Linked DNA regions of Homo sapiens. The gene in region 1 interacts genetically with each later gene. Each region holds a gene or a part of one and is shown on either strand. Other genes may lie near its edges. The genes, in order: MCM2, RUVBL1 and WDR82.

Region 1 (3,653 bases):
CAGTAGCAGGTGTCTCTTGCCTCCCCAGACAGCGATGAGGAGGACGAGGAGCGCCCTGCCCGCAAGCGCCGCCAGGTGGAGCGGGCCACGGAGGACGGCGAGGAGGACGAGGAGATGATCGAGAGCATCGAGAACCTGGAGGATCTCAAAGGCCACTCTGTGCGCGAGTGGGTGAGCATGGCGGGCCCCCGGCTGGAGATCCACCACCGCTTCAAGAACTTCCTGCGCACTCACGTCGACAGCCACGGCCACAACGTCTTCAAGGAGCGCATCAGCGACATGTGCAAAGGTGTGGCTTCCCTACGCCCCCGCCTCAGCCCCTGTAGCGCCTCCCTAAATCCTCCCCAGAAAGTTGTCTGAGCCGAGTGAACACGTGAAGCACAGGGCATATGGCTGAGAGGTCTGTCAGAGAAACCAAAAGTTTTGAGTTTTGCATCAGGGCTCTCCTGCTGGCTATGCAGTGACCACATCTGGGCCACCAAAGCGTTTTTTGACAAGCTTGAAAATGGACAGATTTTATATAAAAATCTGGATTACTACTTTGATCTTTGTAATAGGAATTGACTCTTTTTTTTTTTTTTTTTTTTTTTGAGACGGAGTTTTGTTCTTGTTTCCCAGGCTGGAGTGCAATGGCACGGTCTCGGCTCACTGCAACCTCCGCCTCCTGGGTTCAAGCGTTTCTCATGCCTCAGCCTCCCGAGTAGCTGGAATTACAGGCATGCACCACCATGCCTGACTAATTTTTTTTTTTTAGTAGAGAAGGGGTTTCTCCATGTTGGTCAGACTGGTCTCAAACTCCCGACCTCAGGTGATTTGCCCGCCTTGGCCTCCCAGAGTGTTGAGATAACAGGCGTGAGCCACCGTCCCCAGCCAGGAATTGACTTTTAAAAGGGACATGTAGATCTTGATTCCTGCAATTCCTTCCACTGCTTTTTGTCCTGTGTTTGTCAGTTTCTTCCTGGCTCTTGTAAGGCGTTTCATGTTTGTAGCTGTGTAGGCACTCTGCTCATATTTAATTTAACCCCCCAGCAACTTTGTACACTGTGTGACATGCCCATTTTACGGAGTAGGAAGTTGAAGCTCAGGCTATGTCACAGCTGAAGTGTGGTAGACCTAGAAGTGAAAGCTGGGCTTTCTAGGTCAAAATCAATGGTCGGGGTGGGTAGGCCTTGCTTCTCACACAGGCATTGTTGCAGCCCAGCCCAGGCCTCATGCTTAGTTAACTCTCTTCCCACTGTGCCCCCTTCTAGAGAACCGTGAGAGCCTGGTGGTGAACTATGAGGACTTGGCAGCCAGGGAGCACGTGCTGGCCTACTTCCTGCCTGAGGCACCGGCGGAGCTGCTGCAGATCTTTGATGAGGCTGCCCTGGAGGTGGTACTGGCCATGTACCCCAAGTACGACCGCATCACCAACCACATCCATGTCCGCATCTCCCACCTGCCTCTGGTGGAGGAGCTGCGCTCGCTGAGGTGAGCTGAGGGCAGGTGAGGATGGCAGGTCCGAGCTCAGTGCTGGGTGACTCGGTCGTGATTCCTGAAGAGCGATTGTGGTGTGGGCGGGGAGGGTGCAGCCAGCAGCATCCTCATCGCAGGTGAGTTGTGGTTGCACAGGAGTGTGATGGGAGGGATCTTCCCGGGCTGGGGGCTGGGCCCAATTTCCAGGACAGTGTGTTGGGACACTCTCGTCTGCAGCCTGGCCTCACCCTGGCTCACGGCTTCTGATGCACCCTCTGCCTCCGCAGGCAGCTGCATCTGAACCAGCTGATCCGCACCAGTGGGGTGGTGACCAGCTGCACTGGCGTCCTGCCCCAGCTCAGCATGGTCAAGTACAACTGCAACAAGTGCAATTTCGTCCTGGGTCCTTTCTGCCAGTCCCAGAACCAGGAGGTGAAACCAGGCTCCTGTCCTGAGTGCCAGTCGGCCGGCCCCTTTGAGGTCAACATGGAGGAGGTGAGAGAGGACACAAGGTCTGCTGCCAGCTGTCCTTAGGGGTGCCCAGTATGCAGGACCTGACTGGCCTCTCAGGCTGTGGAAGACCAGTGTGGGCAGCCGCAAGAAGCAAGATAGAATTGTGTGTTGGCCACACCCTGGGGTGGACCCAGTCTGTCTGGCCAGTGGACTTAGCTTGGCCCACACGACGTTTTTAGGAATTCAAGTCAATATTTAAGTCAGGCGATTTGTTTAAACCATACAAGTTTATGGCTCCTCTTGAAACATGAGAAGATCTGGCAAACAGGGCCCACTTCTTGCCAGGTCACTCCTTCAGGATGTGTGCTTACCAGTCTCCATGGTGCCATCACTCACGTGGGGTGGCTGCAGTCCCATCGGGACTTCCCCTCAGCTTGTTTCTGGGACCTGTCTGGCTCACGTGGGGCCCCTGGACCATACCAACCTCCTGCACCATATTCAGGAGACGCTGCCAAAGCCTCTGATGTTAAGGTCTTAGGCACATGTAATGTGCCTTTGTACTTGAGCGTCCCTGTAAATGGGCTCATCGCCATCGCTGTGGTGGCGCCCAGGCCCCTTGACTGCCTTGCTGCTGTGGCTGTTGGCTGTCCTCTTCTCACCGCTCTGCAGTGCAGTTCTGCGAACTGTCCCAGCTGGAGCCACCTTGCCAGAAAATGCCTCAGAGGTTCCACCTGTGGCCACCTACAGCCAAAAGCTGACCCGTCTCGTCTCGGGTGGGGCAGCTGCAGGCCAGATGCCAGCTGAGCCACGTCTTTGCTCACTCTTCCCATGCCCTGTCTGTCTCCCTCAGGCCTTGCTTCTAGGGACCTGAGATAGTACCTGGTAGAGGGTTAACAGTTACAGCTATCATTCATGGAGTAACTTACCAGTGCCAGGTGGTGGGTGGTTTATTACCTGGTCCTTTTTCACAGCTCATGAGGCAGGAACTGTTACTGGCCCCACTTTGCCGAGTGTTTAGAGAACTGGCTGAGGTCACCCAACCAGAATGTGTGTTAGAGGTCCACAGCTCAGGCATCTTGATCTAGAGCATGTGCTTTTAACTGCAGTGCCATGTTGTGAGATAATGGGTACGAAATGACATGGCACAGTGCTGGCCTGTGATACTTGACAGTGACAGCCAAAACTTCCTGTAACTTAACATTTATCAGATGCTGGATTAGGTTGATGTATGTATGACTTGCTTTAATTCTTATTGTGAGGTTGCAGAGAAGGCACAGAGAGAGGAAGTCACTTGCCCAAGATCACACAGCTTAGACACAGAACCCAGGCAGCCTGGTTCCAGCATCGGTACTCAAGACAGCTTAGCTGTAAAGCATAGAGCAGGTGCTGAGTCTGGCCGTCAGAAGGCATCCCAGAGGGATGGTGTGGCAGGAGTGGGGACTGTCAACTGATGTGCTGAGTCGCCATGAACTCATTCCTTGCTGTCTTTGGCTCTCCATTTGCCACTCAGGAGTCGGAATCCTGCCTGTTCTCCCTCCTGTTCGGGGGTCAAGGTTAGGTGACATAGTAAGTCAGTGATTTGAGGCCTTCTGTGTGTCCCTCGCAGACCATCTATCAGAACTACCAGCGTATCCGAATCCAGGAGAGTCCAGGCAAAGTGGCGGCTGGCCGGCTGCCCCGCTCCAAGGACGCCATTCTCCTCGCAGATCTGGTGGACAGCTGCAAGCCAGGAGACGAGATAGTAA
Region 2 (2,905 bases), 480 kb from region 1:
TTCTTGATAGATTAGATATCTCCCGGTGATGTTATGAGGCCTGGTAAATCTTTAAAAGTAACTGTTTTGATTTATTTAACCATCATATTTATCAAGCAAATAAAAAATGTCCCTTCTTGCCTGAGTGCTTGTAGGCAGTAGTGCCCATGCTGGAGAGGAAGGTTAGAGCCCTTGCAGGAGCCCCGGGTAGGTTAGAAGAGGCCCCAGTTCTCTGCCTGGGGACAGGGGACGGGAGGACATGGAGGCAAGAGTGAGCCACTTGGGAAGCTGCATACCTCCTTGGGCACCAGCCACACTTGAGTCAGTTGAATACAGCACACTGGCCGTGATGCTATTCATGCATACTGCAGGGCCGCACATGCCTCCTGGAGGGTGCCGGGCCGGCAGTGCTGGGCAGGCGTTGGCTCCCTGCCCACCAACCCAGGTCTCAGTTTCTCTTATGCTGCACAGTGAGAAATCTGAGCAACATTGTCTTTAAAGCACTTTAGAAATGGGGCACTTGAGGTCAGTCACCGTTGATCATGTTTTTTATCCTTTAAAAGATCATTAAAATCCGTGCCCAGACGGAAGGAATCAACATCAGTGAGGAGGCACTGAACCACCTGGGGGAGATTGGCACCAAGACCACACTGAGGTGAGCTGGTACCCTGGGCCCGCCGGGGCCTCCCCAGCACAGCCAGGGCCCTCGCTGGGGTCATTCTGGACAATAAAGGCAGGTCCCTTCCTAGGGCATGGGACTCTATCCATCCGCTCTTCCTGGCGCGATGGGTGCCAGGGCACTTGAGTTTCAAATGCAGAGGATCTATCTGATGGTTTTTAACAAGCTAGAGTAAGGGTGAAGTCCCCATGTCCTGCAGCAGATGCTCCCCTCTGGTGGAGAGTGCTTTGACCCTGGGCCTTCTTGTGGCAGAGAAGATGCACAGAACTAGAGAGCAGGGACCATGTGGTAGCTCATTAGCCAGGGCCCTGGCTCCTGTTCTCCCGGTGGTGTTATGAGGCCTGGTAAATCTTTAACTTTTTTGATTTATTTAACCATCAAGCAAATAAAAAATGTCTGGGTGGTGGATATGGAGAGCCAGGGAGGAGCGCAGACATAGACAGTTCTCCTAATTGTTCTCCAGCGGCTCAAACACAGGACCGGCAGAGCATGTCCCTTCACAGTGGCCTGACTCATTGTAAAATCATTGCTTCACAGTCCTCAGCCCTTCCCTACATCCCTTGAGTCAGTTCTTGCTCCTGAGGTTGAAGGCAGAAATGCAAGCTGTGAGGTTTGGATGAAGGGGTACTTTTTAAAACGGCAGAGTCTTCATGCCTTTGGATGGGCATGTACTTCCAGCTGGCTATGTTTTCATTTCCCTGCCATGTTAAATATCCCTATCTGTCGGACACCTGTATACATATAAGTTTGCAGTCCTTTTCCAGTAGCAGTGACATTACTTCCTACTGGAGGATTTGTAGACTGTACTAAAGATTTGGGGAATAGCACTTATGTCTTCTTGGTGGCTCCTGGACCCTCTCTGATGGGATAATGACTGCAGCTCTCTGAGAAGTGACAACTTTGTCTCCCCTTTTCTGTGTTCGTAGCAGCTGGCACAAGCCCAGCACTGGGCTCTGCTCCTGGTGCCAGTGCTGCCTACTGATGTGGGGGGAAGGTGCTTTCTTCGGTGGCCCCAGTTTCACTCCAGCCCTGGCCCCTGTCCACTCTAGGTACTCAGTGCAGCTGCTGACCCCGGCCAACTTGCTTGCTAAAATCAACGGGAAGGACAGCATTGAGAAAGAGCATGTCGAAGAGATCAGTGAACTTTTCTATGATGCCAAGTCCTCCGCCAAAATCCTGGCTGACCAGCAGGATAAGTACATGAAGTGAGATGGCTGAGGTTTTCAGCAGTAAGAGACTCCCCAGGTGTGCCTGGCCTGGGTCCAGCCTGTGGGCGCTTGCCCCTGGGCTTGGGGCTGCCGTCCCCACTCAGGCGTGGTCTGCAGCGCTGTCAGTTCAGTGTGGAAAGCATTTCTTTTTAAGTTATCGTAACTGTTCCTGTGGTTGCTTTGAAAGAACCCTTCCTTACCTGGTGTGTTTTCTATAAATCTTCATAGGTTATTTTGATTCTCTCTCTCTCTCTCTCTAAGTTTTTTAAAAATAAACTTTTCAGAACAGTTTTAGATGTACAGAGTCATTGTGAACATACAATAGGGAGTTCCCATGTATCTTGTACCCAGTTTCCCTTCTTGTTAACGTGTTACATCAGATAGCACATTTGTCACCGTGAATGACCAATACTGATGCATTATTCTACTGCGTTCACATTTTCTCAGTTTTACCTAATGTCCTTTTTCTGTCCCAGGATCCCATCCAGGATAACCCATTACAACTAGTTGTCATGTCTCCTTAGATGCCTCTTGGCTGTGACATCTTCTTAGATTTTCCTTGTTCTTGATGACCCTGACAGTTTTGAGGAGGACTGATCAGGTATCTGTAGAACATCCCTCAGTTGGGGTTTGTCTGATGCTTTTCTCATGAGTAGACTGGGATTGTGGGTTATGGAGAGGAAGACTAGAGGTGAAATGTGGTTCTGATCACATCGTATCATGTGTGGTTCTCATCACATGCTAGCAACATGACTCATCGTTGATGGTGAGCTTGACCCTTTGGCTGAGGTCATGTTTGTCGGGTCTTCTCACTGTAAAGTTACTCTCTGCTGCCTTTCCATACTGAATTCTTTGGAAGGAAGTCACTATATGCAGCCCACACTTAAGTGGCAGGGGTTATGCTCACCTCTAGAGAACTGAGTATTTACCAAAATTATTTGGGATTCTGCATGGAAGATTGTATCAGAATGGACTTACGGAAGTTCATTGTATACTTTAGTAGATTTATTTTGTTGCTCAAATTGAGCCAGCTTTGGCC
Region 3 (3,653 bases), about 75 Mb from region 1:
CAAAAATTGGATGTGAATTCTAAACCACTCTGCCTATCTATACATATATATACCTGTTCTCCCAAAATTGCCATTTTAAGAAACACAATAAAACACACATACCACAACCATATCTGGAACAAACAAAGGCAACTAGTATAAAAAAAAAAATTTAAAGCTACAAAATAAAAATATATGATTCCAATGCAAATCAAAACCACAATGAAATACTACTCCACACCCTCTAGCATAGCTATAATAAGAGAGATAACAAGTGTTGGTGAGGATGCAGAGAAATTGGAACCCTCATACATTGCTAATGGAAATGTAAAAATGGTACAGTTGCTTTGGAAAAGTTTTTCCAAAAAAAGTTACCACGTGACCCAGAAACTCCACTCCTAGGTATTTACCCAAGATAACTGAAAATATATGTCCACACAAAAATGTACACATATGTTCAGATCTGCACTATTCATAACAGCCAAAAAGTAGAAATAACCCAAATGGTCCATTAACTAATGGATGGACAAACAAAATGTGCTGTATCTATACACTGGAACATTATTTGGCAATAAAAAGTAATAAAGTACTGCCTCATGTGACAACATGGAGGAACCTTGGGAACACCATGCTAAGTAAAAGAAGCCAGGCACAAAAGATCAGATATGAACTGATCCATTTACACAAAATGTCTAGAATAGGCAAATCTATAAAGACAGAAGTAGATCAGCAGTTGGTAGGGGCTGAGGGAGTGATTACTAATGGGTACAGAGTTTCTCTTTGGAGTGATAAAAATGTTCTGAAGTTAGATGATGGTGATAGTTGTCCAACTTTGCAAATATAGTAAAAACCACTGAACTGTACATTTTTAAAGGAATCATTTACAGTATGTAGACTGTATCTCAATTAAAAAAACACAAAAAAGCATGATTCCTTATCAAGATGTGTGAGGACTACACAGATATTCTCAAACCTAAGTGGCATCAGCATCACCTGGAGGGTGGGTTAAAACAGACTGCTAGGATCTGCTCCCAGAGCCTCTAATCCAGTAGGCCTGACTTGGGGTCTGTGAATCTGAGTTTCTAACTAGCCCCCAGGTGATGGGTGAGGCTGCTGTTTTGGGCACCACACCTAGAGAACCACAAGCCTATGCTAACAGCAACTGTATTCCTTTTTTGGTTCCCTTTTGTGGTTATACCATCAAGAGACACTCACTGAAAAACATTTTCTTCCAATGTAACTCAACTAACATCTGCACCAGCTCCTCAAGTTAAAATTTTAAAAGGTATTGTTAAAAGCCAAAATTTCCTGAGAATGCTGAGGAGGTAATAAAACACAATGAGCAGGCCAGGTGCGGTGGCTCATGCCTGTAATCCCAGCACTTTGGGAGGCCCAGGTGGGCGATCACCTGAGGTCAGGAGTTTGAGACCAGCTTGGCCAACATGGTGAAATCCCACCACTAATAAAAATACAAAAATTAGCCAGGCCTGGTGGCGTACACCTGTAATCCCAGCTACTCAAGAGGCTGAGGCGGAAGAATCGCTTGAACCCCAGAGATGGAGGCTGCAGTGAGCCAAGATCACACCACTGCATTCCAGCCTGGGAAACAGAGCAAGGCACCGTCTCAAAAAACAAAAATCAGAATGAGCAGAACACGTTGTGGACATGTAATTTTATGCCATGGCATTCAGCCCAAGAGCTCAGCACAAGACTCTATGCTGAGAAGTACAGGGAACACATGGAGAAGTAAGACCCCGACCGTAAGGAATTTTAACTGTCCAGTCCACATGACTCCAAGAGGACCAGAGAAGGCTTCTGGAAAGATACAACATCTGAGGTAGAAAGGATTTCAAAGAAGTAGCCCAGAGTTCACCTTAATGGGAATGGTGGGAGAAAATGCTGAGAAAATGGGTCAGAGCCAGAAGGGACAGAACCTGACTACAAGGGGAAGGAGCAATGAAAATATAGAGAACCATTAAGAGAGATTGTGAAGCAATCAAACTGCAATCCAGGAAGCTGAAACAGGATGGTAAGAGATGGGAAGATTAATTAGGAGCTAACAATAATTTACCTCACAGGGCATGAGCCAGGGCAGAAGCAAAGGAGAGAACACAGAGGAAAGTGACACATGAGGTTAAACCTAGGGAGAACTAAATAGTTTAACAACTCACTGAATATGATGGCAGGGGAAAAAGAGTGAACTAACAACAGATGCTTTGAGCCAGAATTGGAAGAGACAGAGATGAATAAATATGAGGAAGACAGAGAGAAGCTGGCCCAAAAAAGGTAACAATGATGGACAGAGTACTGGACCTGAGTATTAGAAAGAGTATTGGACAGAAGAGACAGCTACAAAGATGTGTATAAAACATGTAGGTGGTGCTGGGTGCAGTGGCTCATGCCTGTAATCCCAGCACTTTGGGAGGCTGAGGCGGATGGATCACCTGAGGTCAGGAGTTTGACAGCGGCCTGGCCAACATGGTGAAACCCTGTCTCTATAAAAACACAAAAATTAGCCGGGCATGATGGTGCGTGCCTGTAATCCCAGCTATTCGGGAGGCTGAGGCAGGAGAATCGTTTGAACTCAGGAGGTGGAGGTTGCAGTGAGCCAAGATCATGCCATTGCACTCCAGCCTGGGTGACCCGGTGAGCCTCCATCTCAAAAAACAAAAAAACAAACAAAACCTGTAGGTGGAAGGCGGGTCTGAAACTGATAATAGACATGAGCTAAAAATACTGATTTGGGAAGCCACCTGAATGGAGGTAAATGAAATCAGCGATGGAGATAAGAAAGCGGATAAAATATTTGTTTATTTTAGAGTCAAAACAGAGGCTGAAAACTACAAGAACAGAACCGACATGGGAAAAGTCACCTGCCACGGGAAAGTAAGTTTTACTGAGAGGTTAAGCACCAAGAAAAGCCCAAACCAGTGGCTTTTTAACTAGAGGCAGCAGGGAATGAAGGATAAAGGTTTGGATAAAGCCCCATAGACGATTCTGGGACTAGTGCAAAAATGATTTCAACAGTGAACATGTGTGAGGAGGTGGAGATGGGAATGTACAGATTCTTCTTTCAAGTTTGATAGTGAAAAGGAGTGGGTGATAGGGTCAATAAGTAGATTTAAGATAAGAAAGACCAAGTAAATTTGTAGGCAACAAAGGAAAGGCCAATTAAGGAGATGGAAGCAAGCAGAAAGAGGAAGGTCTGTTTTGTGAAAGAAAGACAACAGCTTTCTCAAGGAAAGGATTCCAAGGAAGACAGAATTTAGGTGGAAGGGATAGATGTTTAAAAGAACTCTTTTTTTTGGAGACACGGTCTTGCTTTGTCACCCAGGCTGGAGTACAGTGGCACAATCATGGCTCACTGCAGCCTCAACCTCCCAGACTCAAGCGATCCTCTCACCTCAGCCTCCCAAAGTGCTGATAACAGGCCTTAACCACCACACCCAGCTGAAATAACTCATTTTGTATAGCCTTGATTTTCTCATAAAAGGAGGGACAAAGTCATCTATCAAGAATCAGGAGGTCGGCCAGCCGGGTGCGGTGGCTCACGTCTGTAATCCCAGCACTTTGGGAGGCTGAGGCGGGCGGATCAGGGACCATCCTGGGTAACACGGTAAAACCCCATCTCTACTAAAAATACAAAAAACTAGCGGGGCTTGGTGGCGGGTGCC

What was found.
Region 2: changes in MCM2 (region 1) and RUVBL1 together harm fitness less than expected from each alone (positive genetic interaction), as found in Homo sapiens cells (one large-scale study listed by BioGRID).
Region 3: changes in MCM2 (region 1) and WDR82 together harm fitness less than expected from each alone (positive genetic interaction), as found in Homo sapiens cells (one large-scale study listed by BioGRID).

What each region holds. Positions count from the first base shown.
Region 1 is NC_000003.12:127,604,868-127,608,520, forward strand, and holds part of MCM2 (DNA replication licensing factor MCM2), read left to right. Parts: intron 1-9; exon of another isoform or gene 10-28; coding exon 29-289; intron 290-1,250; coding exon 1,251-1,470; intron 1,471-1,742; coding exon 1,743-1,950; intron 1,951-3,514; coding exon 3,515-3,649; intron 3,650-3,653. UniProt on the Homo sapiens protein: Acts as a component of the MCM2-7 complex (MCM complex) which is the replicative helicase essential for 'once per cell cycle' DNA replication initiation and elongation in eukaryotic cells.
Region 2 is NC_000003.12:128,080,212-128,083,116, reverse strand, and holds the end of RUVBL1 (ruvB-like 1), read left to right. Parts: intron 1-542; coding exon 543-634; intron 635-1,707; coding exon 1,708-1,867; 3' UTR 1,868-2,307; downstream 2,308-2,905. UniProt on the Homo sapiens protein: Possesses single-stranded DNA-stimulated ATPase and ATP-dependent DNA helicase (3' to 5') activity; hexamerization is thought to be critical for ATP hydrolysis and adjacent subunits in the ring-like structure contribute to the ATPase activity.
Region 3 is NC_000003.12:52,261,523-52,265,175, forward strand, and holds part of WDR82 (WD repeat-containing protein 82), read right to left. Parts: intron 1-3,653. UniProt on the Homo sapiens protein: Regulatory component of the SET1/COMPASS complex implicated in the tethering of this complex to transcriptional start sites of active genes.